3 separate regions of the Homo sapiens genome follow, and regions 1 and 2 are each linked to region 3. The links come from fine-mapping of genetic effects on gene expression. A gene starts in region 3. Each other region holds a variant in brackets. All regions are shown on one strand. Distances are from middle to middle.

Region 1 (10,089 bases), 37 kb before region 3:
TATGCGGGGTTGACTTCAGGGTTACAGGTGAGTGTGTGTGTGTCCGCACATGGACACATATGCGCGCACATAGTGGGTATCCAGTACGACTCCGCGCTTCCTCACTCCTTTGTTGGGGTAAGTAAAGCAGAAGGAGTTGCTTGTTTGGGACAAACGTTGGGGACTGATATTCAATGAGATATTTCAGTGAATAGGAAAGTCTGTTTTTTCTGTTGTTTTGTTTTTGTTTTAGAGACAGTCTCACTGTGTCGCCTAGGCTGGAGGGCAGTGGCGCGATCTCAGCTCACTGCAACCTCCACCTCCCAGGTTCAAGTAATTCTAGTGCCTCAGCCTCCTGAGTAGCTGGGACTACAGCTGCACACCACCACGCCCAGCTAATTTTTTTTTGTATTTTTAGTAGAGATGGGGTTTTGCTACGTTGCCCAGAGTGGTCTTGAACTCTTGAGCTCAGGCAATCCGTCCACTTTGGCCTCCCAAAGTGCTAGGATTACAGGCGTGAGCCACCGCGCCCAGCTGGAAAGTCTGAATAGACTCCCCTGTTAGAAGTAATGGAGGAATGGAGTCTTTGGAAAGGGCCAAGAAAACAAAAACTGCCAATGATTAAAAATACAAACCAATTATCCCACCCCGAAATTATAAGATGAGAAAGTGACAGTACTTGCTGTACTGTAGGATTGGGGGTAGATTTTGCTTAAGCATCAGTCTCCTTTTCTGAACTGAAGAATGTAATTTGATTTACAAGCATGCTTGTGGATATGTTTTGGGAAACCATCCATTGTATACAGTGGGGCAGAGCCATAGTGCTAGGCGGGGATAACAAATGAGGATGCAGGGCTTTATGCCAAGTGTGCCCTGGACTGGGGGTGAACTTGGACAAGTCACTTAAGCTGTCTTTCTGGGGGCAATAGATGGGCCTCCTATGCATCCTTCAGACCCAGAAATCTTCAGAGACCAGTGAGAACAGGGTTGCTACCTGATAAACCTGGGTAGAAATAAGACAGAGCTTGCGGGGACCTCTCTAAAAACCTAACAATTCTGCAAAGCCACACCACGAGACACTATGAGACACAAAAAGGAGGAAGCTGACATGAAAGAAAGTCGTAGCCAGGTGTGGTGGCTCATGCCTGTAAACCCAGCACTTTGGGAGGCTGAGGTGGGAGGATTGCTTGAGATCAGGAGTTCGAGACCAGCCTGGGCGGCAAAATGAGACACCCCCCCCCCCGGCCACCCTCCCCACACCCGATCTCTTAAAAAAAAAAAACAAAAAAAAAAAAACCGAAAAGAAGTTACAGATTTCATAAAATCAATATGTGATGTTTACCCTCTGGTTTTGGAAATGTAGTTATCCTAAAAAAAACCCTCCTTTTAAAATTTCCTTTCCCACATTTAGCTGAGTTTCAGGGGTATTGGAACTTAGAACAGAAGGTATGGAAAATGTTTATGAGCAGCCCAAAGTGTCAGGACTATTTATAAAAGGGCAATATTCTCAAATAAAAAGCATTCTATATTCTATGCTAAATGAGAAAACTGGGGCTCCCCAAAAGCCACTTAAAATTGAATGGAAAGTGTGAGAAACAAGTGAACATTGTAATCACCTGACAAGGTAGTAGGTGAGGCCAAACTCAGGCAGTGACTGCCACGCCTGGATGAACCGCAGCTTGGCTTCGACCAGGGGCATCTGGGCCACGTTCTGGTGCGCCTCCAGGATCCGGGCGGCCAGCTGAACAGAAACAGACATCAACCTCTCTTCACATGCACCGGCTGCTCTGTGATCACCCTGTTAGCTCCAGATCCCCCATAAGAACAATACACTCAAGGTCCGTCTGCAGCTCTACAAAGACAATCCATTCTCATCCATTCATTCTCTCTCTTTTTCTACAAGATACAACAATCACTGGAAGAAGCAGGAAAAGGATCACCCAACACATAAACTTCTAAAGTTGGTGCAGTTGGAGAGCTCTGGGGTCCCTCTGTCTGAGGTCTGTGGAGTGTCCACAGACAATGATTCTACATGAATCAGCTCATCTGTGCAACTTTTAACCCACTCCTATAGAAGCATAATTTTAATTATTAATTTGTGAGAACTAAATAAGTTCAATCTGGGAATACCTACATGTTTAGTCAGCAGTACAGTCACCTCTAACAAAATTAACAATAATTTCATAACATCATCTAATATTCAGGACATAGTCAAATTTCAGCATCAACTGATTTTTTCATGATGATACTCTTAATTAGATGGAATTACTCCTTTTTTTTTTTTTTCTGAGACACAGTCTTGCTTTGTTGCCCTGGCTAGAGTGCAGTGGTGCAGTCTCAGCTCACTGCAGCCTCCACCTCCTGGGCTCGAGCAATTCTCCTGCCTTAGCCTCCCAAGTAGCTGGGATTACAGGTGTGCACCACCACGTCTGACTGATTTTGTATTTTTAGTATAGAAGGGATTTTACCGTGTTGCCCAGGCTGGTCTTGAACTCCCAACTTCAAGTGACCCACCCACCTTGGCCTCCCAAAGTGCTGGAATTACAGGTGTGAGCCACCATGCCCAGCCGGAAATCCTCCTTTTATTTCTGTTTGCATAAAGAATTTACTGCAAACAATTGCCCTAACAAGATTAACAGTACCTGTTTGGATTTGTGTCTTTTTGCACACCGTGGTGACACAAAACATTCTGGGTTCATATCCATGTTTTCGAGACTGGAAGCCACCTGAGATGCAGAGTTCCTGTTTTTCATCCTCAGAAATGAAAGGATGTTGAGGACCTCTGGCTGGTAGGAGCTGTCTGCCATGGTTTTGCCCTTCGATGCCAACATGCAGGCAGCCATCCATTGGGCGTATTGATTCTCCTGCAGCAAACAGAAGGTTGAGAAGCAAGCTCAAGTGCAAAGCCCCCTGCTGCACACAGAGGGGGACTTGGGCTTTCTACCCCATTACAGTGCAAAACCATCACCTTCCAAGCAAGATGTGAAGTGGCACACGTTGTGAGTGGCTGCTCATCAGCTAATGTAACACCTAACAGTAGTTTTTGAGTCCTGTGTTGAGTTTCTAGATGCTGGGAGGCTAGAGGATAGGAATGTCAACTTTGATAAATTGCATGCAGGGAATTTGCATTTAAAGATGATCCAAGGGCCAGGTGCGGTGGCTCATGCCTGTCATCCTCAACTTTGGGAGGTTGAGGTGGGTGGGTCACCTGAGGTCAGGAGTTCGAGACCAGTCTGGCCAACATGGTGAAACCCTGTGTCTACTAAAAATACAAAAATTAGCTGTGCGTAGTGGCAGATGCCTGTAATCCCAGCTACTTGGGAGGCTGAAGCAGGAGATCCCTTGAACTCAGGAGATGCAGGTTGCAGTGAGCCAAGATTGCACAAACGCACTCGAGCCTGGGCGACAGAACAATACTTTGTCAAAAAAAAAAAATACCAGGTGTGGTGGCTGACACTTGTAATTCCAGCACTTTGGGAGGCCGAGGCGGGTGGATCACGAGGTCAGGAGATCAAGACCATCCTGGCTAACATGGTGAAACCCCATCTGTACTAAAAAATACAAAAAAATTAGCCAGGCGTGGTGGCAGGCACTTGTAGTCCCAGCTACTTGGGAGGCTGAGGCAGGAGAATCACTTGAACCTGGGAGGTGGAG[G/T]TTGCAGTGAGCCGAGATTGCACCACTGCACTCCAGCCTGGTGACAGAGCGAGACTCCATCTCAAAAAAAAAAAAAAAGGTCCAAGGACACAAAGAAGTGCCATGGGGCACAGATAGGTGGTGAAACCGCAAACTGTCAGCTTTCCTTGATATGTATTTCTGTTTTCATATCACATCTGGTCTCTACGCCCAAAAGAAAATGATGAAAAAAATTAGCTGATTTCCTATATTATTTGTATCCTGGTCTATCCTTGGTAAAGACTCTAACTCTAAGGTAGCAATCATGGCCATTATGGGATCTTAACAAGTCAGTGGTGGCTTCTATTGCTGTTTAATTTCTGTGTTTTATTTCTGACTTCAGGGAGTGAACAGGGGTGGTCCTCAGAAGTGCAAGGGATACAGTTAAAGAGGGGCGTTCTTCAGTGCAACAGTGGGTGAGGAACGTTGAATTACTGGCCTCAATCTTCACTGCCCCTGATAAGGTTTGGCTCTGTGTCCCCACCCAAATCTCATGTTGAATTGTAATTCCCAGTGTTGGGGGAGGGACCTGGTGGGAAGTGATTGGATCATGGGGGCAGATATACCTCTCGCTGTTCTTGTGATATTGAGTGAGTTCTCATGAGATCTGATGGTTTAAAAGTGTGTGGCACTTCCCCCTTCACTCTCTCCCTCTCCTGTCACAATGTGAAGATGTGCTTGCTTCCCCTTCACCTTCCGCTAAGATTGTAAGTTTCCTGAGGCCTCCCCAGCCATGCCTCCTGTATAGCCTGTGGAACTAGGAGTCAATTAAACCTCTTTTCTCTCCCAGTCTCAGGTAGTTCTTTATAGCAATGTGAGAATGGACTAATACACCCCCCACCACTGCCATCCACAACCTTCGCCATATAACTTTACAGTTCCTCCCACCAGGGAGGAATTCCCATCCCTTGACTGCAGGCTCAGTCATGTCTTCTGCTTTGGCCAATGGAATGTGGGTGGAAGTGACAGTGTGCCAACTTCATGCCTAAGCTTTAGGAGGTGCATGTGTTGCTACGTGCCCTCTCACACTTCTGCCCTCACCAAGAGGAGACCTTCCCTAGGCAGCCTGGGACCCAGAATAAATAAAATCAGCTCAACCAGAGGCACAGTCCCACCAAACCTGTGTCTCCAAACCCATATGACCAGCTGACACCATCCTGGATCATCCAATCCCCAGCCTACCTTTCAGCACATCTTTCAGAAAACAATGTTTATTGTTTTTCTTTTTCTGGGGGAACAGAGTCTTGCTCTGTCACCCAGGCTGGAGTGCGGTGGTGCCATCTTGGCTCACTGCAAACTCTGCATCCTGGGTTCAAGTGATTCTCCTGCCTCAGCCTCCCAAGTAGCTGGGATTACAGGCACCCACCACCATGCCTGGCCAATTTTTGTATTTTTAGTAGAGATGAGGTTTCACCATATTGGCCAGACTGGTCTTGAACTCCTGACCTCAGGTGATCTGCCCACCTTGGCCTCCCAAAGTGCTGGGATTACAGGTGTGAGCCACTGCATGGCAAATGTTTATTGTTAGAATGTCATTGTGATTTTGTTACACTGTGATTGTTTGTTACAAAGCAATAGCTGAGTGACACAATAGTGCTCTAAATTTGTGAAAACATTTTTGGGTTTTGCTCTTAGGCTTAGTGGAGGTGAAGTGACTTAATATTTTTGGGGTTTTACTCACATGGTCACATCTCAAATACATTTCATTCATACCATCGGCAACAGGGATTAGTAACTTGATTCCAAATTTTCTTCCTGCTACATTTACATCGGGCACAACTTCGCAGCCTGAAGGACAAAGATCAGAGACAAAACTGAGTTCTGAGGCATCTGTTAGATAAACATCAGGTGTGTATCTGAAATAAAGACTTTGAATACAAGCCCCTCAGATTTGCTTTGGTTTTGAAAAATGGAGGAGCAAGCTGATAACATTAATTAATGGATAATTAGATAAATCTTATGAACAATTAACATAGATAAAGAAAAATGCTTTTCTTTTACAGTTTTCTTAAAAAGTCAATTTAGTTCATTTTCAGGTTAATGCTGGCTCTCCAAACTCATAGAAAAAATTGTGGATATGAACTTTAAAATAAATCAAAGCAGAAGGAATTCTCTGATTGTCACAATAATGTGAGTTGAGTGTACTGGTTAATTAAATATTTCAATTAATAGATGGTTATCAGGACGCTCACAGTGACCTTCAGAAATTAGAATAGGCATTAAAGTGACACTGAATTAAATATAACTGTTCTGGAATACAGAAAACTTTTCAGGATCTTACAGCACCTCATGTGCTATACTCTTGGACATGAATTACCACCACATCATAAACTCTGGACACACTGAGAAAGATGGAACAGCAGAATGCAAATAATCATGTTTACTAGACTGCATTCAAGGCTCATGCTTGGAAGAGCAGCTGCAGCCAGGCTGTCATTTGGAAAACAGTGACACTGGTTCTGGTGGTTCCTCTAGAAGTAAGTAAACCGTGCCTCATGGTGTCGAAACCCTGACTTTAATCTGCTCACCTCTTTTTTTTTTTTTTTTTTTGGAGACAGAGTCTCACTCTATCACCCAGGCTGGAGTGCAGTGGCATCATCTCGGCTCACTGCAACCTTCACCTCTTCAAGTGGTCCTCCTGCCTCAGCCTCCCAAGTAGCTGGGACTACAGGCATGTGCCACCACGCCTGGCTAATTTTGGTATTTTTAGTAGAGATGGGGTTTCACCATCTTGGCCAGGCTGGTCTCGAACTCCTGACCTCAGGTGATCCGCCCGCCTCAGCCTCCCAAAGTGCTGGGATTACAGGTTTGAGCCACCGCGTCTGCCCTGACTTACGATGAGCCACAGCAAGATATAGGGTACTCTTACCTCTAAGATTTAGTTTTTCTAGTGGTTCTCCTTGTTCAAGTTCCTTATTTTTAAAGTATGCTATGGATGTGTCTTTAAAGATAAACCAATATTGTTTGAAAGCTTTTGGTAGTAACTTCTTGGGCCTGCAAATTCAAAGATAGTGAATGTTTAAACCACCACCCAGAAATGTGGAACACGCTGCAGATTTCAAGCAGATCAGATCAGATGTTTGTGTCAAAGAAAACACACTTTGTTTTTTCAAAAATAATTTCAAATTGCTAATTTCCAAGCGCTGGAAATGAAATGCTGATATGTGATGTAGATTTTAACACTAAGCCTCCACCTGGGGCCACACCTGGCTCTGCTACTGTCTACACGTGTGTCCTGGGAAAGATCCTGCACTTACCTGGGCTGCGTGCACTGCCTCTGTGTGATGGGGACCGTCGTAGTCTGGGAACCCAGGGCTTTTGTGAGGACAGAATGAGTTCATCTACATGAAGAGCTTATCACAACACCTGATGCAACTGAAGTGTTAACTGTGATGGTGTATGTGAGGAACCGACATGAATCTGGTGACATTTGGAATCTCGGCATACTTTTTGCATTTGAAAAAGCTGTCGATATGGACAGCCCAAGCTTCAGGTTACCATACATACAAGTCAGATATAAACATGAGCAGCATTTTCTGTAGTTTCCTCTTCACCCTTAAGAGAAACTATGGGAGAATTCTCAGTGAACCATGGAAATCAGCGATATCTACAGCTAGTCAATATAGACTCTACTGTTATTAAAAACTATTTTGGGGAAAGGTATCCAGCTGTGGTATTGGTATCTGTTGGGGCCAGAAAACTTTATACAGTGGACTAGACAAGGTTGGTGGTGCCAGTGGCAGGCCTAAAGGTTGGGTCATTCAAAATAGGAAACGTGAGAATGAGCTAGGGGGAGGACAGGGGTTGGAGATAGGCAGAGAAAAGAAATTATTAGTATGCGGTTTGTGGAAGAAACCTGGCCGTGGGGGCAGATCAGGGTATCTCATGCCAGAGGGGCGGACTTCTGCATCAAGAATGGGAGAAGAAAGGAACCTTGGTGTTCCTCTTGGAGAAGAGAGGAACCATTCATATGTAATTTGGGGCAATTTTTTTTTTTGGAGACGGAGTCTCGCTCTGTTGCCAGGCTAGAGTGCTGTGGCACGATCTCGGCTCACTGCAACCTCCAACTCCCTGGTTCAAGGGGTTCTCCTGCCTCCGCCTCCTGAGTAGCTGGGATTACAGGCATGTGCCACCATGCCTGGCTAATTTTTGTATTTTTAGTAGAGATGGGGTTTCACTATGTTGGCCAGGATGGTCTCGATCTCCTGACCTTGTGATCTGCCCGCCTCGGCCTCCCAAAGTGCTGGGATTACAGGCATGAGCCACCACGCCCAGCTGGGACAATTTTTTTAAACATGTCAGTACTAGTCTTTCCTTAGCTAAACATATGTTATCCTTAACACAAAGATAGGAAAGAAGTTGCACATTAAAAAAAAAAAGTATATGCTGGGTGCCAGTGCCATCATCTCAGCACTTTGGGGAGCTGAAGTGAGAGAATTGCCTGAGGCCAGGAGTTTAGGACCAGCCTGGGCAACACAGGAAGATCACATCTCTACAAAAAAAGAAAAATTAGCCAGGCGTGGTGGTGTGTCTATAGTCCCAGCTATGTGGGAGGATTGGTTAAGCCTGGGAGGTTGAGGCTGCAGTGAGCTATGATCACCCTGGGTGACAGAGTAAGGACTTGTTTCTAAAAAATAAATAAATAAAATTTAAAAACCCAGCAAAACCCCCTCAGTGTATTACAGAAGAATATTACATATAATTTATAAAATAAATTTGAAAAACATTATATGAACTTAACATTTCCAGGATTAAGAAAAAACACTGTATTAAAATAGTATTTATTTGCTGGGTGCGGTGGCTCGTGTCTGTAATCCCAGCACTTTGGGAGGCCGAGGCAGGCTGATCACTTGAGCTCAGGAGTTTGAGACCAGTCTGGCCAACATGGTGAAACCCTGGCTCTACTAAAAATACAAAAATTAGCTGGCCGTGGTGGCGTGCACCTGTAGTCCCAGCTACCCGGAGGCTGAGGCACAAGGATTGCTTGAATTCAGGAGGCGGAGGCTGCAGTGAGCCGAGATCACGCCACCGCACTCCAGCTTGGGTGACAGAGCAAGACTTCGTCTCAAACAAACAAACAAAAACCAAAAAATTGGTATTTATCATGTTGAGGGCTGTAGTTAAGACAGTTCTTTTTTTTGTTTTGTTTTTTGAGATGAAGTCTTGCTCTGTCACCCAGGCTGGAGTGCAGTGGCGCAATCTTGTCTCACTGCAGCCTCTGTCTCTTGGGTTCAAGCGGTCCTCATGCCCCAGCCTCCCGGGTAGCTGGGATTACAGGCACGTGCCACCACGGCCGGCTAATTTTTGTATTTTTAGTAGAGCTGGGGTTTCATCATGTTGGCTAGACTGGTCTTGAACTCCTGAGAGCTCAAGTGATCCGCCCACCTTGGCCTCCCAAAGTGCTGGGATTACAGGCATGAGCCTCCATGCCCAGGCAGTTCTAAGGAACATATTGTTGTTTAATACTCAGATTCTCCAAAATGAATAGTATTTTCAGAATAATAAAGACAGCACCTTTAACCAAAAGATACAGGTAATAAGGTCTTGGTTTAATCTTCAGCCTCTAAATATTTCTCTTTAGGATTAAGAATGAGGCCCTACTTCTCTGTTCTACCTGGACCTTAAGAGTATCAAGAGATCTCAAGTTCCTCCTCCTATCTCCTGCCTGGAAGTTTTGTCATCTTTCAGGATGCTTCTGACACATTAACAAAGCTAATCATTGCTGCTGCTCTATGCAGCAAAGCCTGGGGCAGGGTAGGGGAAGGGGCAGCGGAGGCGATGCTGGGTGGTGAATGACGTGCATAAGAACGAGCGAGACAGGCTCTCCAGGCTCTCGTTAGAATTTTTTTTTTTTTTTTTGAGACAGGGTTTCACTCTGTTGCCCAGACTGGGTGGAGTGCAGTGGTGCAATCTCGGCTCATTGCAACCTCTGCTTCCCAGGCTCAAGCGATTCTCCTGCCTCAGCCTCCCCAGTAGCTGGGATTACAGGCGCGTGCCACTACCACCTGGCTAATTTTTGTAGTTGGTTGTGGATATTCCCCTCTAGGTATTTTTGCAACTACATATGTTAGGGCTTCATAGGTTTTGTCATCCCGGATCAGTTTCTATTTTATGTTTTCAGGATTCCCTTATTACATAAACACATAAGACATTTAAATTTGTATCTAGGCTGGGCATGGTGGCTCATGCCTGGAATCCCAGGACTTTGGGAGGCCAAAAAGGGAAGATCTTGAGTCCAGGAGTTTGAGACCAGCTTGGGCAACATGGTGAAACTCTGTCTCTACAAAAAATACAAAAATTAACCAGGCATGGTGGCACATGCCTGTAGTCCCAGCTACTCAGAGGGTTGAGGTGGGAGGACCGCTGGAGCCTGTGAGGTAGAGGCTGCAGTGAGCTGTGATCACGTCACTGCACTCCATCTTGGGTGACAGAACGAGA
Region 2 (10,089 bases), 50 kb before region 3:
TGTTGGTCAGGCTGATCTTGAACTCCTGACCTCAGGTGATCCACCTGCCTTGGCCTCCCAAAGTGCTGGGATTACAGGCGTGAGCCACTGTGCCTGGCCAATTTCCATGAATTTCAAATGGCTTAATAGATAGCTTATTAAAATACAAAAACAAAAACCAGGAGACAGGATGGTATAAAGATGAGAAAGACACACTCTGAAATGCCATCAGCTGTGTCTTAGGATACCGCTAGAATGGGATAGATTTCTTATTCTCCTTTTTGGGGATATCTCATCCTGCATTAGTCAGCTATTCCACAATGATGCTGCTTAACACACTGCTCCAGAACTCAGTGGCTTACAATAACAAGAATTTGTTCCCACACAAATTGTCTGTGGGTCAGCTGATCTAGCTCGGCTTGGCTCCAGGCTGTGGACTCCATTTAGATCTGCTACATGGATTCCATTCAGTGGCTCAGGTGATGACCTGGGGAATCCTGTTCTCACAGTGGAGGCAGGAGTGCAAAAGGATTGCAAAAGCACAGTGGCAGCCTCTGGGCCAAAGGAAGTCAAACGGCCAAGTCCAACAGTAAGTGGGCAGGTAGTATGTGCCACCCATGGTAGGAGAGGAGAGGGGAGAAAATATTTGCTGAACAATGATCCAAACTGTCACACAAACCATCACACTTATTTGAAAATAAGCTGATAAACTATTTTTCTAATTAAAAATATGTTCTTGTTAAAAATAATACTTTACATTTGTATTGCATATTATGGTTTTAAAAGCATTTTTGCACCATTCTCTCATACGTTTCTTCCAGTGATAGAGTGGAAAGGTAGCATCCCCATTTTTAAAGATGTGAAGATTCTGGCTGCATTATTTTCCTAGAACTGGTGTAACAAAATTACCATAAGCCTTGTGGCTTGAAACAGAAATTTATTCTCCCACAGTTCTGGAGCCTAGAAGTCCAAAATCAAGATGGCGGCAGGGCCATGCTGTCTCTGAAGGGCGCAGGGATGGATCCGTCCTTGCCTCTTCCTGGCTTCTGGTGTTTGCTGGCCGTCTTTGGGACTCCTTGGCCTGCACCTGCATCACCCCTGTCTCTGTCTCCATCATCACATGGCCTTTCCTGCTCTTTTCCTTTGTTAGTTAGTTTGTTTGTTTAAGACAGAGTTCTGTTCTTGTTGCCCAGCTGGAGTGCAATGGCACGGTCTTGGCTCACTGCAACCTCTGCCTCCCAGGTTCAAGCGATTCCCCTGCCTCAAGCGATTCCCAGTAGCTGGGATTACAGGCGCCCATCACCTTGCCTGGCTAAGTTTTGTACTTTTAGTAGAGATGGGGTTTCACCATGTTGGTCAGGCTGGCCTCGAACTCCTGATCTCAGGTGCTCTGCCTGCCTCAGCCTCCCAAAGTGCTGGGATTACAGGCATGAGCCACTGCCCCCAGCCTACCTTTTCCTTTTTTTAAGGACACCAGTCATATTGAATTTAGGACTCACCTTAATCCAGTATGACCTCATCTTTACTTGATTACATCTGCAAAGACCCTATTTTCACATAAGGTCACATTCACAGGTTCTGTGCAGATGTGAATGTGGGGGGACACCATTAACTCAGTACACTGGCTGGCAGAATTTATGGCATCTACACTCTTTCTTGACAATTCCTCTGGTGTCTGGTATCCTCCCTGCCAAATCCATGCCACATCTCTAAGGCCAGATCTTCTTACACTCCTCTGGGCATACATATCGCTGAGAGTCTTGTTAAAAGGCAGACTCTGACTCAGAAAGGTCTGGGTGGACCTCAGAGCTGGGATTAGGGTGAGCCGAGGAGGTGCCCTGTACGACCCTGACAGTGAGGGCCTCCTTAAATGCTGTGCCCGGGATGCCTCACCTGTGCCACCCTAGTCCTGGCCCTGTGAGATTCTGCCTTTCTGACAAATGCTGCTGGGCCAAGGACCACACTTTGAGTTGCAGTCCACGTGGGTTTCATGCGTGGTATCTCACCCTCAATAGCAATGAGGGTGTTTCTATTTTGAAGTTGGATGTCTGTAACTCCTAGAAAGGTAACAGTGGTTCTGCTACATTTTTCTTTTTCTTTTTAAATAACATTGGGTCACATGGGCTGGGCTGGCTGCCAATAATGTTGGTTCTTTAGTGACATTTCAGGAAATTAAGCTGGTAGCACAGAGATTCAGGGCCCCTTTGTAAGCACCTGGTCAGACCTTCATCCCCAGCCCTCCTGGCTTCCCAGAATATCCCACCATTAGTTCTGCCTCCTGACCTCTGTAGCACTGCCTGGAAGAGGTCTTTGCTCTCTTCCAATAGCCTCCCCTACCAGCCAGGGGCTGGGCCCAAACCAGCTACCCCATCACCAGCAATAGAGCCTATGCACTGAGCCCTGACCCCAGGCCTTGCTGCAAGCCCTACTCTTTCCTTACAGTTTTATATATATATTTATTTATTTATATTATATATATATTTATATATTTATTTTAAAATTTTATTTTTAGAGAATAAAATTTTCTCAGGGTCGTGCTTTGTCGCCCGGGCTGGAGTGCAGTGGTGCAGTCATAGCTGTCTATATTTTTGAACTTAATTTGCCTTCCCTGTTACCGGCCCCATTTATGTCCATCAACACATCTCTTGAGTCAGAGGGCACAGGCTTGGGGTGTTGGGCCCTTCCCTCCCCCAGATCCTCTGCTCCTCTCACACAGGGCTCTGCCTTCTCTCCACGCTCCACTTTTGCAACTGAGGGATGTCAGAGGGCAGCCAGAGGCCTCCCCGCCCAACTTCCAGGGGTGAAGAAGAGAGACACTATCCTGTTAAGTCCCCATGCAGCTTTTGTCATTTGCAGTGGCTAGGGAGAAGCGGCTATAGGACTTTTCCTCTGTGATGACTGAAGACACTGCAGCACATGGGGAATTATGGGTGTTTTTGGAGCTCACAGAGTAAGTTGGAGAAAAGAGGTAAATCCTTTTAGTGGAAAGAATCTTCCCCACAGGTGTTAGTCAGGAGCATTCTCATTCAGGTTTTTTAAAAATTGGGACTCCTCTGAGATAACTGAGCCTTTACAAAAATTATTATGATTATTTTAAATAGAGACAGGGTCTTGCTGTTGCCCAGGCTGGTCTTGAACTCCTAGGCTCAAGCAATCCTTCCGCCTTGGCTTCCCAAAATGCTGGGATTACAGATGTGAGCCACCACACCCGGCCAATCACTGAGTCTTGATGCAACATGAGATGTGTGTGCAAATGTCAGGATAGCTTTTTCTTTTCGGTTTTTGTTTGTTTGTTTGTTTTGTTTGTTTTGTTTTTGTTTTTTTGAGATGGAGGAGTCTCGCTCTTTCACCCAAGCTGGAGTGCAATGGTGTGATCTCGGCTCATCGCAATCTCTGCCTCCCAGGTTCAAGTGATTCTCCTGCCTCAGCCTCCCGAGTAGCTGGGATTACAGGCAGGTGCCACCACACCTGGCTAATTTTGTATTTTTAGTAGAGACGGGGTTTCTCCATTTTGGTTAGGCTGGTCTCGAACTCCCGACCTCAGGTGATCCTCCTGCCTCGGCCTCCCAAAATGCTGGGATTACAGGCGTGAGCCACCGTGCCCGGCCTCCCCTCTTTCTGATAGCACTCAATATTTCCACACAACTCCAGTGAGGTTCAAGGAATTGGAAAAACTTTGAAGCAAGTGAGGGCCAAGGGCTTCACTTTTTCAGTTTTTCAGATTTTCCAGCTATGATTTCCTGGACTCAAGAGTCCTTGGCTGTAGGGTGCATGAGAAGGAAAGATGGGTGAAATAACAAAGAGGAATGTTCCCTTTCTGTCTCCTACCACTGAGAGATTCTGGGGTGACAGGAGTGGAAGGGGGAGAGGCAGGAAAGTCACGCTATGTGAGAAAATAATTAAAATGAATATAGAGATACTAAATGTAGAAGCCAATTTTTTTTTTTTTTTTTGAGACAGGGTCACTGAGGCTGGAGTGTGATGGCATGATCATAGCTCACTGCCACCTTGAACTCCTGGAGCTCAAGGGATCCTCTCATCTCAGCCTCCCAAGTAGCTAGGACTACAGGCATGTGCCACCATGCCCAGCTAATTTTTTAAAATCTTTGTAGAGATGGGGTCTTGCTGTGTTGCCCAAGCTGGTCTTGAACTCCTGGGCTCGGGTAAGCCTCCTGCCTTGGCCTCCCAAAGTGCTGGGATTACAAGGTGAGCCACTATGCCCAGCCCCCAAAAATAAATCTTGTGAGTTAAAAATAAAATTTTAAAGTGATTTTAGAAGACAGATATTATAAAATATCTTGACTTCTTGTATTAAATGAGTTTTCAAATTAAAGCTTCCTCATTTCCTTACTTTTCTGACCGTGGGACTAAAAATGAAACTTTCCCAAAATTAAGCACGGTGGCTCACGCCTGTAATCCCAGCACTTTGGGAGGCCGAGGCAGGCGGATCACCTGAGGTCAGGAGTTCAAGACTAGCCTGACTAACATGCAGAAACCCCGTCTCTACTAAAAAAAATACAAAATTAGCCAGGCGTGGTGGTGCATGCCTGTAGTCCCAGCTACTCGGGAGGCTGAGGCAGGAGAATCGCTTGAACCTGGGAGGCGGAGGTTGTGGTTAGCTGAGATCACGCCATTGCTCTCCAGCCTGGGCAACAAGAGTGAAACTCCATCTCAAAAAACAAAAACAAAAATTAAAACAAAGAAAAAAACAACAACACTCTAAGCACCTCATTTCTCTGGCTCCCAGACCTTTTTGGTCCAGCCTCTCCTCCCACAGCTAACTGCTCTTAATGCCCCTGGTTCTCTCTTACTGGTATGAGCCTGAGCTCAGGAACGCCTGCTCTGGAGCTAGGGTAAGGGGCATTTCAAGGCTGGGCAAGGCTGGGAAGGAAGGGTGGGGTTTGCTGGGTTAAGCTTAGTGGCTTCTGGAGTCAAGACAAACACTGCTCATTGGCAGTGTGACCCTGGGCAAGTTCACCTTCTGAACCTTTCTCCTTTGTAGAGGAAGCCATTTCTACCCTCTGTGGGCTGACAGGAGAATTGCACAAAGGGATATCTATAAACTGCATGTCACTAAAGCAAAGTGCCCTCAACACTCAGCCATCAGAATCAGAGGCTTCTGCTGTTCTATTGCCGCTGGGGATCTTTGCTTGCTGGTGTGTGTGTGTGTGTGTGTGTTTTAATATAGAACTGGAAAGAGACAAAAGAGCTCATGATAAGGCAGGATATGCCAGGAAATCTGTGACCAAGTCAGTGAGAAAGGAGTTGAAACCAGCGGGTAAGTGAGGTTTCTAAGGGGCTCTCTGAGGACCCCTGGAATCTGCCACTCCCCACACCACGGGAGGGAACGACCCGGAATCTTGGCGCTGTGAGGAGAGACACATGTTAGACCTCAGAGTTGCAGTCCCTTTTCATAAGAGAGGAAAAAGTCACCTTTTTGGAGACAGTAGGTTGGAGAGGACACAACAGGACCGTACTCAAATCCATATAAATCTTTTACTTAAAAGTCATATAAAAGAATAAAAAATGCAGATTTCTGAATCAACTGTAGATAAGGAAGCAAATGATGTTGAAAGGTGCCCATTAATTTAAAATTTCATCATAGGAATTTGGGTGACCTTTTGCACTCAGTATTAAAAAAAACCATCAAGTTGCTCTTTGGAACAGTAGCATTTAGGTTTGTTTTTTTTTTTTTTTGTCACACTTGTTTATTTCTTTGGGATGTTGCTGTGTGTCATGGAAGAAACGCTCCCCTGAAAACTGTAACCAAACAAAGTTTGGTTAAAACAAAGTTGGTTCCTTTGTTTTCATGGAAATGTCAGACAACTATGAAAAGCTAAGGAAGCATGTTGAACTGAAGGTCTGGCTTTGGTAAATTAGGCAGAGATGTTCTCAGCAGCAAACAGGTAAAATCTGACATCGAGAAGCATTATTTTAATGTAGGACCAGTTATAATCTTAAAGAACTGACTAGGTTCTAAAATAATAGAACTGAGAAATAGGACTGAGAAATGACCAACATCAAGTATATACGGTACACTTAGCACTTGTTTCTATAGAAAACATTTCAAATCAAGTTCTTTATGATGTGAACCAGATTTTCCAAATGCCTAAACCACTTCTGAGCTTTAAGCAAGGCCTCAGAAATTCAGCGGGTGCCTGGGAGGCTTCATTCACATTCACCTCTAAGGAGAGGCTAAAAGAGGAATTTCCAGATGGCAGCTACTGGCTCAGAACCAGGGGGTCCCTTGCCAAGTCTGTCTCTATGTGGCTCCCGGAATTGCTGAGGTCTCACTTCTCAGAGGGCTTTGATGGAAAATAAAGCAACAGCTGACGCTCACGGGCCTCGGAACTCTGGCCAGGCTCCCTGAGGGGTGCATCCTAGGAGAACTGAAAAATGGGATTGGAGCTTTTGCCTTATCCTTACACCCCAAGTTCTTTGTGTGGCAGAACATCTATGAAAAAATAATAAAATATTGTCTGATATTTCCCTTTACTTCTGGTATTGCTTTTGACCTTCTCAAAACCCACCCCTCCCACCTCTAACAAACCAAAATGGAAAATGACAATTCAGGCAGCTGTTAATTGGCTCACTCTCTCAAGGCAAGCACTGTCTCAAGGCAGTCTCAAGGCAGAGATGACACAGCAAAA[A/G]ACAGAGGGGGAGAAAAAAGTCTATTATTGGCTTGTGATTTACAAAAGCCAAAGTCCTTTAGATAAAAGGCCAGGAGTCGTACCAACATAGATACCAAATCCAGGAGAACACAGACCAGCGATAAGAGGGACGCTTCCCCATGACCCAGACCAGCCTAAAGCCCCTGTGGGGGCAGCCAGTGGGGAGCTGTCAGACCTTGGACATGGTGGTCTTTGAGAATGGGTCTGCCCTTCTCTCCCTGACCAGTTGGGATAGACACCTGACTGGAATCCTTGACACTGGCAGGTGTTTCTATGAACAGAGAGGACTGTGCCTGTCTTCCTGAATCCCAACCCAGAGTAGAAGCAGTGGAGACATGGATCTGGGTTGAGAAATGGGTTTTCCTGTCCCCCTGTGTCACCCACATCTTCACAAAGGACTTACAGGTGGCTGAGAGATCTGTAGGAATGGAATGGGGCTTGCAGGTGGCCCCAGAAATCTGAGGAGACCAATGACTAAGACCAGATGTGGGTCAGTGGTCATCTTGGCAGGTATCACTGTGGACAGATGACACTGAGGGCCACTCCTCTGACCTTGGGTTGTCAACTGCTACCTGGTAGCCCCACCCCTCCCCTTTCTACCCCTAGACCTTGGCCTCCAGGGAAAAAGTGTGTGTAGGAACTCCCTCTGCCATTTTGAAAAGACAGGAGCTAAAAGCAGTTCCATGAAGGACAGGCGTTTCGTTTCATACCTGAGTTTGTGAAATAAGAGTTGTTCTTGCTACACGTGATTTTTACCTTTCTGTCTTCTCCATTGACTTAGTAATGAGACAGATCAGCACGAGGATAACTTGTAGCCATACACCTGGCAGGTTCTGCAAGTCAGAGAACTGTAACCACATGCTGGGCCTTAGAGCAATCTTAGGGCACCTGCTTTTCTCCTGCCTACCCATTTTATAGAAAAAACAAGAGAGGCTCCTTCCGTGGCTGGTAGCACAGGGCAAAGTAAGGAAAGGGATGTGCCAGCAGTGGGTTTGAATGAGGATCTGGGTGACCAGCGGTGAATGTATGTTGTCTGTTAGTCCAGAATCTACATGCTGGGCACGTTAGGGATCCCTCTGGGGAGGGGCGCCTTTGGCTTGCCTTGTTGGTGTGAGCCGAGCACGCGTGCTTGTTTCAATCCTGACCGCCGGTCAATTTGTGGAACAAGTCCTCATCGAGTGTTTCATTCTGGTCCTTGGAGCGGGTGGACAAGAAAATGTAGCCGCCAATGTACTCGTGCACAATCTTGCAATCTGCACTCAGGCAGGTGAAAGCAGTAAAGACGTTTTGGTCAAACTCGATGACCACCTGGAAGAGGAAGGCACAGAGAAGCTTAAACTCTGACAAGGAATGATGAAAAAAAAAGTGCTTTGCTGGACTGGCCCCTGGAGCTGAGGGCTGCTGAGGTGGATAACAGATGGATATCCCTCTAAAACACACAGAAAACCATCACTTCCATTAAACGCTTCCAGAAAACATCTTTGCTCTCTTTGCGCCCTCTGGTGGTGTCGACTTTGCTGCACGTCTGGTTAAAAAAACTCCCAACACATTTTCTGTCTACAGTTTAGATACAAGGATTTTGCCCAAGCACTCTCTGTCTCCCTGTGTTGAGGGGCAGGGTGCTTCGCAGGCACTTTATTTTTATTTTTATTTTTTTTTTGAGATGGAGTCTCTCTCTGTCACCCAGGCTGGGGTACAGTGGCACGATCTCGGGCCACTGCAACCTCTGCCTCCCAGGTTCAAGCGATTCTCATGCCTCAGCCTCCCAAGTAGTTGGGATTACAGGTGTGTGCCACCACACCTGGCTAATTTTTGTATTTTCAGTAGAGACGGGGGTTTCACCATGTTGGCCAGGCTGGTCTTGAACGCCTGACCTCAAGTGATCCATGCCTCGGACCCCCAAAGTGTTGGGATTATAGGCGTGAGCCACTGCACCCGGCCTGCAGGCTCTTTAATGAATAAAAGTCTGCCTGAATTTTCCTACAGCCACTGCCCGGAACCCTTTCCTAGCTGCAAGTCATAAACTCTAAGCACTAGAAGAAAGACTTAGAGACTTTGCTGGTTCACAACCTTGGCTGCCCATTGAAATCACTTGTGGACCTTTAAAAATTACTAATGGTTCGTTCCTCCTCCCAGAGATTCAGATTTAACTGGCCTTGGGTGTGGTCTAGGCAGTGGTGTTTTAAAGCTCCCCAGGTGATCCTAATACGCATCAAGGCTTTAGAGCTACCGCCTTAGAGGTCATCTAATCTCTGAACTTGATTTTACAAATAAGCACCCAGATGATTATCAACACTGCTGAGAGGAAGTCAGGGTTCTTAACAAATGTGTGGGTCTCTTACCATCCCTCTACGTCAGTGACTTTCTATTGGAAAATGAGAATGCCAAAGGAATGAGGGAAGATTGAGTCTGTATCAGCAACATCTGAATGTTTTAATTAATTCAAGAATGAATGAAACAGGGTCTTGCTTTGTTACCCAGGCTGGAGTGCAGTGGCACAGTCACTGCTCACTGTAACCTCGAACCTCAACTGATCATCCCTGGCTGAGTAGCTGAAACTACAGGTGCACACCATCACACCTGGCTAGTTCAGCGTTTTTTTTTTTTGTTTTTTTTTTTTTTAATTTTCTGTGGAGACAGGGTCTCATTATGTTGCCCAGGCTGGTCTCGAACTCCCAGCCTCAAGTGATCCTTCCCACCTCGGCCTCCCAAAGCACTGGGCAGAATGTTTTAAATTAGCGGCAGGATGCTAAGCTGCCTCTAACTTCATCTGGAATTTTCCATGATACAGGCTTGGCCTGAACTTAGCTCCTAGGATGGGAGATGATGGGAGGCTGTAACATAGGCTAGGGGTTTGAGGGCTCCTGGTTTTAAGAGGTGAAGCTTTTCTCAGTCATCACTATGGACCTCACTTTCTTCTTCAGCAGTTTTTCCCTTTTGGGCCTGGAATGCTCTCCAGGTGAGCAACTGAATCTTCCAGTCCTCCATCGGGTTTCTTGGCAGCCAGTCAGATGAGGCTTTTTTTGGATTTATTTTGCATAGCAGTTACATCTCCAGTAGTTTCTCATAAGTAAGTATCAAGCTAAATCCTGTATAATCCTATGCTGAGTCAATGAAAATTAATGAAACTGCTCAGCGATTTCAGAACCTGTCTGTATTGAAAGTCTGCATGGAGACTAAGCCAACTTGCAGTGCTAATGCAAGAGCATTTGGCCTGTGCCTGTTAGGAAGCTGCCCAGAATTGCATATGATGATTTTAGCAGACAGACAGTTACCATATGCTTGTGGTTTCTTAGGTCTAAATAGAAGAACACCTTTTAAAACTCAGAATAATCTGCAATTCTGAGGGACACACATTTATAGGCTCAACACTGAAGAGCAAAAACTTTCACTTTACCTGCCGGGTTTCCCAGTTTACATTCCACTGTTTGATATTTGT
Region 3 (10,089 bases):
GGGTTCAAGCGATTCTCCTGCCTCAGGCTTCCGAGTAGCTGGGATTACATGCACCCACCGCCACGCCAGGCTAATTTTTGTGTTTTTAGTAGGGATGGGGTTTCGCCATGTTGGCCAGCCTGTTCTTGATCTCCTGACCTCAGGTGATCCGCACACCTTGGCCTCCCCAAGTGCTGGGATTACAGGTGTGAGCCACGGCACCCAGCCTGGGCTATTTCTTTCTCTCCTCTGGGATGAGGGGTGGGGGATTGCTCTCCAGGGCATTACAAGATAAATGATCAGAAAAACCTACACCAGCCATTAGTGGTGATGCACCAGACAGGGTTTCTAATACAGAGAAACCGTAAAGCAAGAGTAACTTACTGATCTGTTCTACTAACTTGAGCATCACTCCTCCAACATGAAGGTCTCCAGATACTCTCAGTGTGACGTCTTTCTGCTGCTCTTCATTGGGATGGTCAACGCGGACCACAAGCTCCCAGGAAGCAAATGTAAAGTCAGTGGATGACAGCATTGTGGCAAATGCTGGTGTCTGCTGAACAAAAAGGCAGACATAGATTGGAATGTGGGAAGGAAACGGGACTTGTCAGTAGACTTGCAGAGCAAAATTTCTTTTTTGTTTTGTTTTTCATTGTAACCTCCTCTTCAAAACACTCTGCAAGGTTCCAGGTGCTCCAGATATCAAATTTGGCATCTTAACTTTGAAGACAAAAAGTTTTATAAAAATGGTCTCAAATCATCTAAATTTACATACTTCATTTTTCCATTCACCCACTTCTCCAAGACCACTTGGCTATGTATTTCCTTCGTCCACCCAATGCTTCAATCCTCATTTTCTCTCTATTGACTTCTTTTGACCTTCTCTCAACTATTCTGGCAATAGGCAATCTTCCATATTATCTTTTAAAGAAATCAATTTTATTAAGGTATAATTTGCATGTAATAAAATGCGCAGATTTTATATACTATAGTTCAACATATTTTGTTGTATGCAAATTATACTTCAATAAAGTTGATGTTTAAAAAGGATGCCATTAAAGCCTCTTATCTTTAATATCTTTAATATATGTATATTATTACATTCCTCCTACAAAAATGTATATCTTCCCATAATAAAGCTCAAAAAATAAAAAAAAGCAAAATAATTCCTATTTCAGTCATTATAATATATAGTTTTACCTTAAATACATATAGATACAGGTCATTAATAATTATTGCCATGTATTCGATTTACTTATTGTTCTATGTCATATAAAAATTGATTATAAATGCACCAATTAAAAATTTGGATACATCTTTGGCAAAAGATTTAAAAACAGGAGTAACAGATATAAAAAGCTCACTCTTCAAAGTACAGATAGGGATGTGAATTTCAAACCCATCGTTTTCCCCTCATGGGAGAAGCTAGCAGGAAAGAACGTTCACAACTGAAATGTTTCAGGGGGTAACTGGAACACTGGAATCCAAATTGGCAGAACTGAAACAAAACTTGAGATGTCAGTTCTCTCTTACTTTTAAACAGAAAGAAATAATGCTACTGCTCCTGGCTGTTTTAAACATTTAAAGTAAAAATTATTTAAATGATAATGAGTCTTTTTCACTTTACTATGTAAAGCCAGCTTATGAGAAATTCATGTTTTCATAAGGCCTATTTTTAAGAAACATCAATGCACTCAAACTCCTAAGAAAGGGCTTCTCTGAGGGTGTACACAAATCCCCCAGGGATCCTATTAAAATGCAGATTCTATTCAGCAGGTCTAGGGAGGGGCCATACATTTCTTAACAGGCTCCAGATGTTGCTGGTCTGTGGGTATACTCAGTTCTTCCCTTCAACCTATTTAGATCAATATTAAACCAGGGATGATGGTAATATCCGAGGAACATTACTTTTAATAATAATTAAACAACCAGTGTCATATCTGTTCTGCATGTTCATTCGAAACGACTCATTTGTAAGCATAAGAGAATCTCAAAATACGCTACACAGATAAATTGAATACTGCAAATCTGAACAGATTTAGGACAGATTTTATGGGTGAGGATGAAATTCAAGAGTTCAGAAGTAGCTCCTTATGTTTTTGTTTTGTTTTTGTTTTTTTTGAGATGGAGTCTTGCTCTGTCACCCAGGCTGGAGTGCAGTGGCATGATCTTAGCTCACTGCAACCTCTGCCTCCCGGGTTCAAGCAATTCTCTGCCTCAGCCTCCCAAGTAGCTGAGATTACAGGCGTGTGCCACCACGCCCGGTTAATTTTTGTATTTTTAGTAGAGACAGGGTTTCACCATGCTGGCCAGGCTGGTCTTGAACTCCTGATCTCGTGATCCACCTGCCTTGGCCTCCCAAAGTGCTGGCATTACAGGCGTGGGCCACCACGCCCAGCCGTTCCTTATGTTTCTATAGTCAGAAGCATGCAACGATGCAATGCATCTCCTCCCCATGCACAGAGATCCACACAGAACCCTCTGCATGAGGAGTGCCACTCAGTGACTGCATTAGGCCTAACTGCTTGCCTCTGTCATCATCAGCTTCAGGTATCATTTATTACCTACTGACTGTATGATGTGCTCTGTGTTAACTCCTGTCTTCTGTTATCCCTTTTTCATCCTCTCAGCAATCTCATTTAGAAATGAGGAAACTCAGCCTCAGAGAGATGAAGCAAGTTGCCTGAGGTCACACAGCAAGTTAGATGCTGGAGCCCAGGTGGAAATCCAGGTCTGCCTTTCTATTTCAAACTCTTATTCACCACACTGGGAAACCACTTTGATAATGTTGCAATGCCAAAATGAAAGAAAACTCCTCAAACTACGTGAACTAAATTCTCAGTAGCCTTTACTAAGCATTTCTATCAACACAAATCTTGCGCAGTGAGGAGACAAAAGATGCCCCTTCATCGTCAAACTCATAACTTGGCATTGAACTGTTCGACTTTAAGATCCTTACAATTTCTTAAATGCTATAATTGTGAAGTCTAGTTATTTAAAATGTTTTGTATATAAAGAAAATAACTTTTAAAGGTGATTCCTTACTGCTTATTTCACTGGGCAATCTGATATAAGGTCTTTTCCTAACTTGGGTGATCAAAACACTACTCATTCAGGCAATAGATGCTGATTCCCCTTACAACAAAATGCAGGCTAAAATTAGCCAAGCTGGTTTTCCTGCATTCCTTTCCTATCTTTCTGTGCCTTCATTTTTGAGTGAACGTCTAGTCTGCAGCAAGCTGTTACTTGTCAAGGATAGCAGCAAACTTCAGCCGGGAAAACGCATCTAAGGAGACCAAAACAAGAAGCAAAGTTACTGGCAGAGTGCTGAAAAGCCCTTCGCAGACAGTCAAAGAAACGAAAGCATGGAGGGATGGAGAGCAGGAAGGAGGAAAGATGAGGGGGAAACAGTCCCCGACCCTTCCCCTGGAATATCTGAAGGTGCTTGGTGTTCGAAGGCCACCCGACCTGTCTTTTGCCAGCTCTGCAGGATCCTGGGGCGGATGTTGGGTGGATAAAGCATGCCCCTTACTCCCATTAAGGCAGCACCTGCGGCTGAACTGAAAGTTTATTTTGCGGCCAGATGCGTAGGGCCGGAGAAGGTGGTCACATCCAGACGAAATTATTTTCAATCAACAGCTATTTAAGTACAAGAGGCTGCAGAAAGAAAGGGGCTAAGGGGGCTCAGGAGCCACTGGTGCCCATGAAAGCCTCCCAACCTCTAGCTCCCCAGCCCTAGCTCCGGAGCACCCACCTCCTTTCCAGGAGCCCGTAGCGTCCAGCCTCGCAGTCGCGCACGTGGAGAGCTGCGTCCCTACAAACTACCCCGGGCCGAGCCGAGGAGCGGGCGCTGGCGAAGTGGGGAGCGGGGGGCGCCCAGTGGCGGCGGCTGCTCAGCTAAGGCTGCGGCAGGTGAGGGCTGGAGCCAGGGCGAGCAGGCGAAGCTGCCTCGGGACCTCCCACGGAGGCTCGGTGCCTGCCCCCAGCCTGGCGCGGCGTGCCCGGTGCACTGCACGGCCCCAGCGGCCCGGCTGAGGGCAGCGCGCAGCGTGGCAGGCGAGGGCACGCCCAGCCCCGGGCCTGCTAGGTCTCGCTCCCGCGGAGAGGAGGCGCAGTCTGCAGATTTTTAAGGGCAAAGGGTGGCCGAAGGGCTGCTCGGCGGAGAGAAGGCGGCGAGAACCCGGGGCGCACGCTCAGTATCTGCAGCTCCTCTTGCGATGTCTCATCCTGACGCTTTAAGGCCGCCTCCAGTTTCCCTGTTCCCCCAGGCCCGCCGGGGACTAGCCCAGATGATTAAAGCCGCGCCACTTCCCCTCCTTTCAGGCATACCCATCACTCACACCCCGGGGTGCGTCCAGGCCCAGGAGACTCCAGCCTCCCGCCTAGAACAGCTGCCTCCCTCAGAAAGAGCCCCGGAGCACTTGTGGTCAGGGAGGTGAAGGCAACGACAAAACGATTCGTCTCTGAGTAAGAGGGTGGTGTCAGTCTCCAGAAGGCTGAGGCTCCCGACCAGGGGAGACTCCAGGAGACCCAAGGGCAGGCTGCATGCGGAAGTCTGGGCCACACCTGGTATGGCTCACCTCAGGATCACCACCGGTCCCGCCAGTCGCCTTCCTGTTGGATTTATTTTCAAAGAGGGCTGGGGCCACCCAGGAAGGGTGGGTGACCTGGGCAGTTTACACAACCTCTCCAAGCCTCCTTTGTTCATTTAATCACATTTGTTGAGTGCTTACTGCTCTACAGGCCTCCCAATGGGCCTGGGCTCAGAGAATACAGTGGTTAATAAAACAGACATGGAAATGACAGTTTCCTCATCTGTGAAATAGGTACAGAGATAGAATGCGTGCTCTTCCACGGAGGGATTTCATGCAATATAGTACAGGCTTTAGCGATTTGCATTAAAAGGCTTGTGAACACTTAAATTTTAATAAAGAAGTTATAAAATTTAGAAGTTGAATCTGTTTTCGCTTAAACATTACCATATTCAGGAATTATTATGGGTTTGAAAGTACATTTAATTTAAAAAGGTTAGTTGAACATTGTTGGCAAATATAGGATATTATAATTGAAATAAAATCATTAAAAACTTGAAACAGAATGTCTTCACTTGGTAGCGTTTGTCAACGATGGGAAGGGTCATCTGGTCCCACTTCCCTACCTCTTAACATCATGAAACCCTGCTTATGGCCCATTAGAACTTAGACTGTGGTCAGTGCGCGCGCGCGCGCGCGCACAAACACACACACACACACACACACACACACACACACACATATATTTTTTTGAGATGGAGTCTTGTTCTGTCCCCAGGCAGGAGTGCAGTGGCACGATCTTGGCTCACTGCTGCACCCTCCGCCTCCCGGGTTCAAGTGATTCTCCTGCCTCAGTCTCCCGAGCAGCTGGGACTACAATTTTTGTATTTTTAGTAGAGACCAGGTTTCATGATGTTGGCCAGGATGGTCTTGATCTCTTGACCTTGTGATCTACCTGCCTCGGCCTCCCAAAGTGTTAAGATTACAGGTGTGATCCACCGTGCCCAGCCTGTGGTCAAGATTTTATGTGTGACCTTGAATTATGGCTCTATCTATTCATACCAATATGGTTTTTCTCTTTTCAATTGAAAATATCTGCATTGTGCTAAAGAATTCGACTGGTTTTAAGCGTTCTTCTTGGCCTAGGTTAATTTTTAAACTTGTAATTTTATGTAGTGACTTGTGTGTATATAAATGTGTATCATATATATACACACCCATACATATACACAATATATATAGATAAGAGCACAAATCGTGAATGTATAGCTGATGAGTTTTCGCAAACTGAACACACCTGTATACAGAGTATATAAAGACACTAGCGTATAAAGAGTGCCCAGTTGAAGAAACAGGACATCACCAGTCCTCGGAAGCCCGTTAGTGACCCCTTTTAGTTATTCCTTTCAGTTATGATCACTGCCGCTGCCTGCCCCTACCCCCGACCCCAGGCCCAGGATAACCATTATCTTATCTTCTAACTCCTCAGAAGGGTTTTGCCTGTCTTTGTACTTTATATAAATGGAATCAGACCATGTGCACTATTTTGTGTCTGGCTTCTTGTGTTCAACATTATGTTTGTGAGTTTTATCCATATTATGTGTCCTAGGCTTTTTTTTTTTTTTTTTTTTTTGAGAAAGGGTCTTGCTCTCCCCCAGGTCAGAGTGCAGTGGCATGATCATGGCTCACTGCAGCCTTGATGTCTCAGGCTCCCAAGCTGGGACTACAGGTGTGAACCACCGTGCCTGGCTAATTTTTAAATTTAGCTGCCTGAGCTGGTCTTGAACTCCTGGGCTCAAGCCATCCTCCCATCTTAGCCTCCTAAATTGTTGGGATTGCAGGTGTGAGTCACCATGGCCGGCTGTCCTAGGCTTTTAATTTAACTTTATGTTTTACTTATTACACGGTTACTGTCGTTTGTGTGACACAGGTCCAACCCATCCCCCAAGGTCCTGGGTTAGAAGTGGGTTAAAAAGTGTATTCTGAACTTCAAAATTTTGTACATATATATTAAAAAAAGCACACCCTTTGCCCCCTTAAAAAACAAGCAGAATCAATTCACTGAGTCTGTTATTTAATTAATTCATACATATTAATCAGCAATGGATTATTTATTTGCTAGTCACTGTATTACTGTGAGCTAGACATCGTAATATATGTTGAAAATACTCAGATTAACTGGGCACGCACTTTGTCTTCAGATGATAGGAGGGATGCTAAGGAATACAGAAGAATGTGTCTACTTCTGCCAGGTGTTTGGAGTGGCAGGGAATATGAGAAAAGGCTTCAGAAAGGAGGTGATTTTTGAGATGGAATTTGAAACATTGGATAAGAGCTTCATAGTTTCTTATAATAACCTGAGGTTTCTAGAGAACTGTTTTAAGGTATTAATATATTTTTTTTAGTTAGCAGATAGTTGCGCTTCAGGTAGCAGAAGGGTGGAAGATAAAGAGAAGCTCTATTTCTTGACTTTGAAATCTTATACATTCAAGTTGCAAATATTGAAAAAAAAATCTGTTGTCAATTACCCATACACTGATAAACTCACCTTTGAACTAGTACCTTCAAAAAGGTAAATCAACTGGGTGTGGTGGTTCAGGCCTGTAATCTCAACACCTAGGAGGCCAAGACAGTAGGATTGCTCGAGCCCAGGAGTTTAAGACCAGCTCAGGCGGCATAAGGAGACCCACATCTCCACCAAAAAACAAAAAATCATAAAAATTATGCGATGATCTGTGCAGCAAACCACCATGGCACATGTTTACTACGTAACAAACCTGCACATGTACCCCTGAACTTAAAATAAAAGTTGAAGAAAAAAATTTTTAAAATAATAGAAATTAGCTGGGTGTGGTGGTATGTGCCTGTGATCCTAGCTACTTGGGAGGCTGAGGTGGGAGGATCGCTTGAGCCTGGGAGATCCAGGCTGCAGTAAGCCATGATTGCACCACTGCACTCTAACCTGGGTGACAGAGCAAGACCCTGTCTCAGTTAAAAAAAAAAAAAAAAAAAAGTAAGTCATGTCATGTCTGGGGTATGGGTAGATTAGACTGAATGAGAGATGTGGCCATATTCCGTATTCACTGAACACAAAAGGGAAATAAATGAGTAGAGAACTTTGAAAGTCTCTGCTGCTTTAACTTGTTAAACACAAATGATTTTTTCCTCTAGCACCTTTTTGCTAAAAATTCTATAGAGTTAATTTAGGTAGAATAAGAAAGCTGCTTGAAGGAGAAAAGAAGTGGATTTTTTTTTCCTGATTGATGATTTTGATAAATATTTACCCAATATAAAGTTCTCTATTAAGTTTTCAGCTTATAAACCTGCTAGAAGTCTGATGACTTCAAAACGGCAACAGACACCTAAAATATATTTTTATTTGCATTGAGTCCTTGGCACATACAAAATGGCAGCTGTGTTCACGTGTGCAGTGAATACATTTTGCTGAGTGCAAAGAAGCAGAATGTGCCTATTATTGCTACACCCTCCTCCCCAACTGGATGGATAATGAGCACTTTCTATGCCCAGGCAAGTTCTAAAGTTTTCTCCTTGCCAGGGTGAAAAGGGTGTGTCTCAATGTACTTACAGGGCTGAATGACAAAGAGCAAAGAAGAGTAAAAATGGCTTTGCTGGGGGCCATGCTGGAGCCCACCTTTGAGAATGAGAGAAGCAAGAAACACAGTGCCTCCCTCCTTCCATCCCTCTTCTCCTCCATCCCCTGTTCTCCTTCCTTAGATTGCATCCTTCTTAATCAAAGGGTACAAGAGAGTATACAGTGATAATTAAATCTTCCTCCCATCCTTGATTATTGAGTTCCCTTCCCTAGAGATAATAGTTACCTGTTTCCCCTGAAACCTTCCAGAGATAGTCTATGCATGTAGACAATTTCTGCTTCTTATGCAAGTGATAGTAGTCTATACATATTGTTCTGCATTTTGCTTTTCTAACTTGAAAATATCTTGATGATTGTAGCAAATATCAGTCATACTCATGGCTGCCCATCATCCTTGGAATGGCCTCCTTAATATTTGTGGAAATCTTTATGTCTTAATCCCAGTCTAGAAGTCAGAACTCAAATTCCCAACCTCGCTTGCAGCGAGGGCACAGGCCTATGACCTAGGCTGTGTCATTCAGATACTCAGGAATGACTTTAATTTGAAAGTGAGTGAGGTGCAGAGACAGGATGTACTTGGAGCTTCCATCTTTTCTGATGTGAGTGGTGTCAGGAATGACTATGGTGGTGGTAGTGGCAGTGGCGATGGTTTTCTGGAGGCTGAAAGGTTAAAGTCCCAATGCAGAAGTGATGTCAGGGCTAGTGGGTGGTGGTAGCAGGTGCAGTAAAGTCAGGTTCAGATGCTTCAATGGTGACTCCCTTCTCGTGTTAGTCCTACAGCATCATTTCAGACTTTGTTCTTGGTGCTTAGCTCCAAGCCTCTTCCTCCTGCTGTCCTGTCAGGTTGTGTCCACTATGATGGAGCAAGACCCTGTCATCTATGATGATGATGACGACTTGCCTAATTATTTTTCTGTTTAAGCTAGCCATAGTGGATTCTGTTATTTGTGCCTAAGAGCTCTTACTGACAAAGAACGTGTTACCGGAAGTGGGATGCTACAAGTAACAACACTAAAAGTAGAATTGACTAAGTGCAGCAGGCAGGCCTTTGAGCAAGGAGGGGACACACATTACAGGCTGGAAAGCTGGTGACTCTTGTAATGCAGTGGCAAAATTTTGCTTCAACTACTATATACAATACTTGAAGATGCACACTGCAAGCTGAGTGAGGCTGTGATAAGAGGGGAAATAGTGGGGAGCATTCAGAATGTTGGTTTACATTGATGACTTCTTGCTCTTTCAGCAGTCTTGATAGAGCAGCTATACCCACACCAGAGTCCTCCAGCTGACAAGAGAGGTAAGGAGAGAAACTGCTTTGCCAGGAGGGGCCCTCTGCTGCAGCTGGAGGTCCAAGTTGACCGAGAGCCCAAAATTTGGGCTGAGAAAACAAACTACCACTTTATTCAAACCAAAGCTGGCATAAGTAGCTATTGAAGGGAAATGAATACAACCCTTATTATAATAGCACTATTATGAGAGTAAATGAAAGAGCCCGTGTATGTGTCCCATGCCTTCAAAATGCTATTGTGATTTATATTAATAAATTATTATAATTATTATGGGTGTCTGCTGCTGTCTATATTTCTACCTGACTACTGGGTTTAGAATATGGATACAACTGCTAGCATGGTTGTTTTGAGGGCAACTCAGGTTTATACTTTTTGTAGCCCAGCAAATAGTTCAGTATGCTTTAAATAAAGTCCGGGAAGTAAGGGGAAAGTGAGAGATAGGAACGTTGTTCCCCACTTTGTCACACCTTCTAAACTGGAATTACACATTCATACCTTTCACCATGGGATCTGCAGTTCCCCCCATTGGAGTGGAGTGGACTTCCCTGCACCTTGATTTTGGTCTTGGCCATGTCTTTTGCTTTGGCCAATGAGCAGGTGTGATACAAGCAGAGGCTTGAAATAGATTTGCTTGTGGTTTTGGTTTGCTCTTCTATACTCAGCCTTTCACCACGGG

Alleles and levels. Alleles are on the strand shown, and positions count from the first base shown. SD is a standard deviation of normalised expression in the study named. Not every link is listed here.
As copies of A replace G in region 2, the expression in subcutaneous fat of the gene that starts at base 3,990 in region 3 goes up (moderate effect, 0.58 SD a copy in FUSION).

The links. PIP is the estimated chance that this variant, and not a neighbour inherited with it, causes the effect. A credible set is the group of variants that fine-mapping cannot tell apart.
Region 1: its variant is the best candidate, but not a certain one, in a credible set for the expression of FERMT1 in left ventricle (GTEx, PIP 0.68).
Region 2: its variant is the best candidate, but not a certain one, in a credible set for the expression of FERMT1 in subcutaneous fat (FUSION, PIP 0.84).

What each region holds. Positions count from the first base shown.
Region 1 is chr20:6,082,445-6,092,533 of GRCh38, forward strand. FERMT1 (FERM domain containing kindlin 1) reads right to left here. Exons shown (of 15, transcript NM_017671.5): 10 at 6,521-6,645; 11 at 5,333-5,439; 12 at 2,622-2,843; 13 at 1,596-1,720. Among named protein-coding and RNA genes, the nearest start is that of LRRN4, 33 kb to the left of the region's middle. The variant G/T (reference allele first, on the strand shown) is at 3,634.
Region 2 is chr20:6,069,389-6,079,477 of GRCh38, forward strand. It overlaps FERMT1 (FERM domain containing kindlin 1), which reads right to left. Exons shown (of 15, transcript NM_017671.5): 14 at 10,048-10,089; 15 at 5,457-7,958. The coding sequence ends at 7,785. Among named protein-coding and RNA genes, the nearest start is that of LRRN4, 20 kb to the left of the region's middle. RefSeq lists a silencer at 4,897-5,046. The variant A/G (reference allele first, on the strand shown) is at 6,630.
Region 3 is chr20:6,119,041-6,129,129 of GRCh38, forward strand. It overlaps FERMT1 (FERM domain containing kindlin 1), which reads right to left and starts at 3,990. Exons shown (of 15, transcript NM_017671.5): 1 at 3,734-3,990; 2 at 364-532. The coding sequence starts at 514. RefSeq lists a silencer at 3,876-3,995.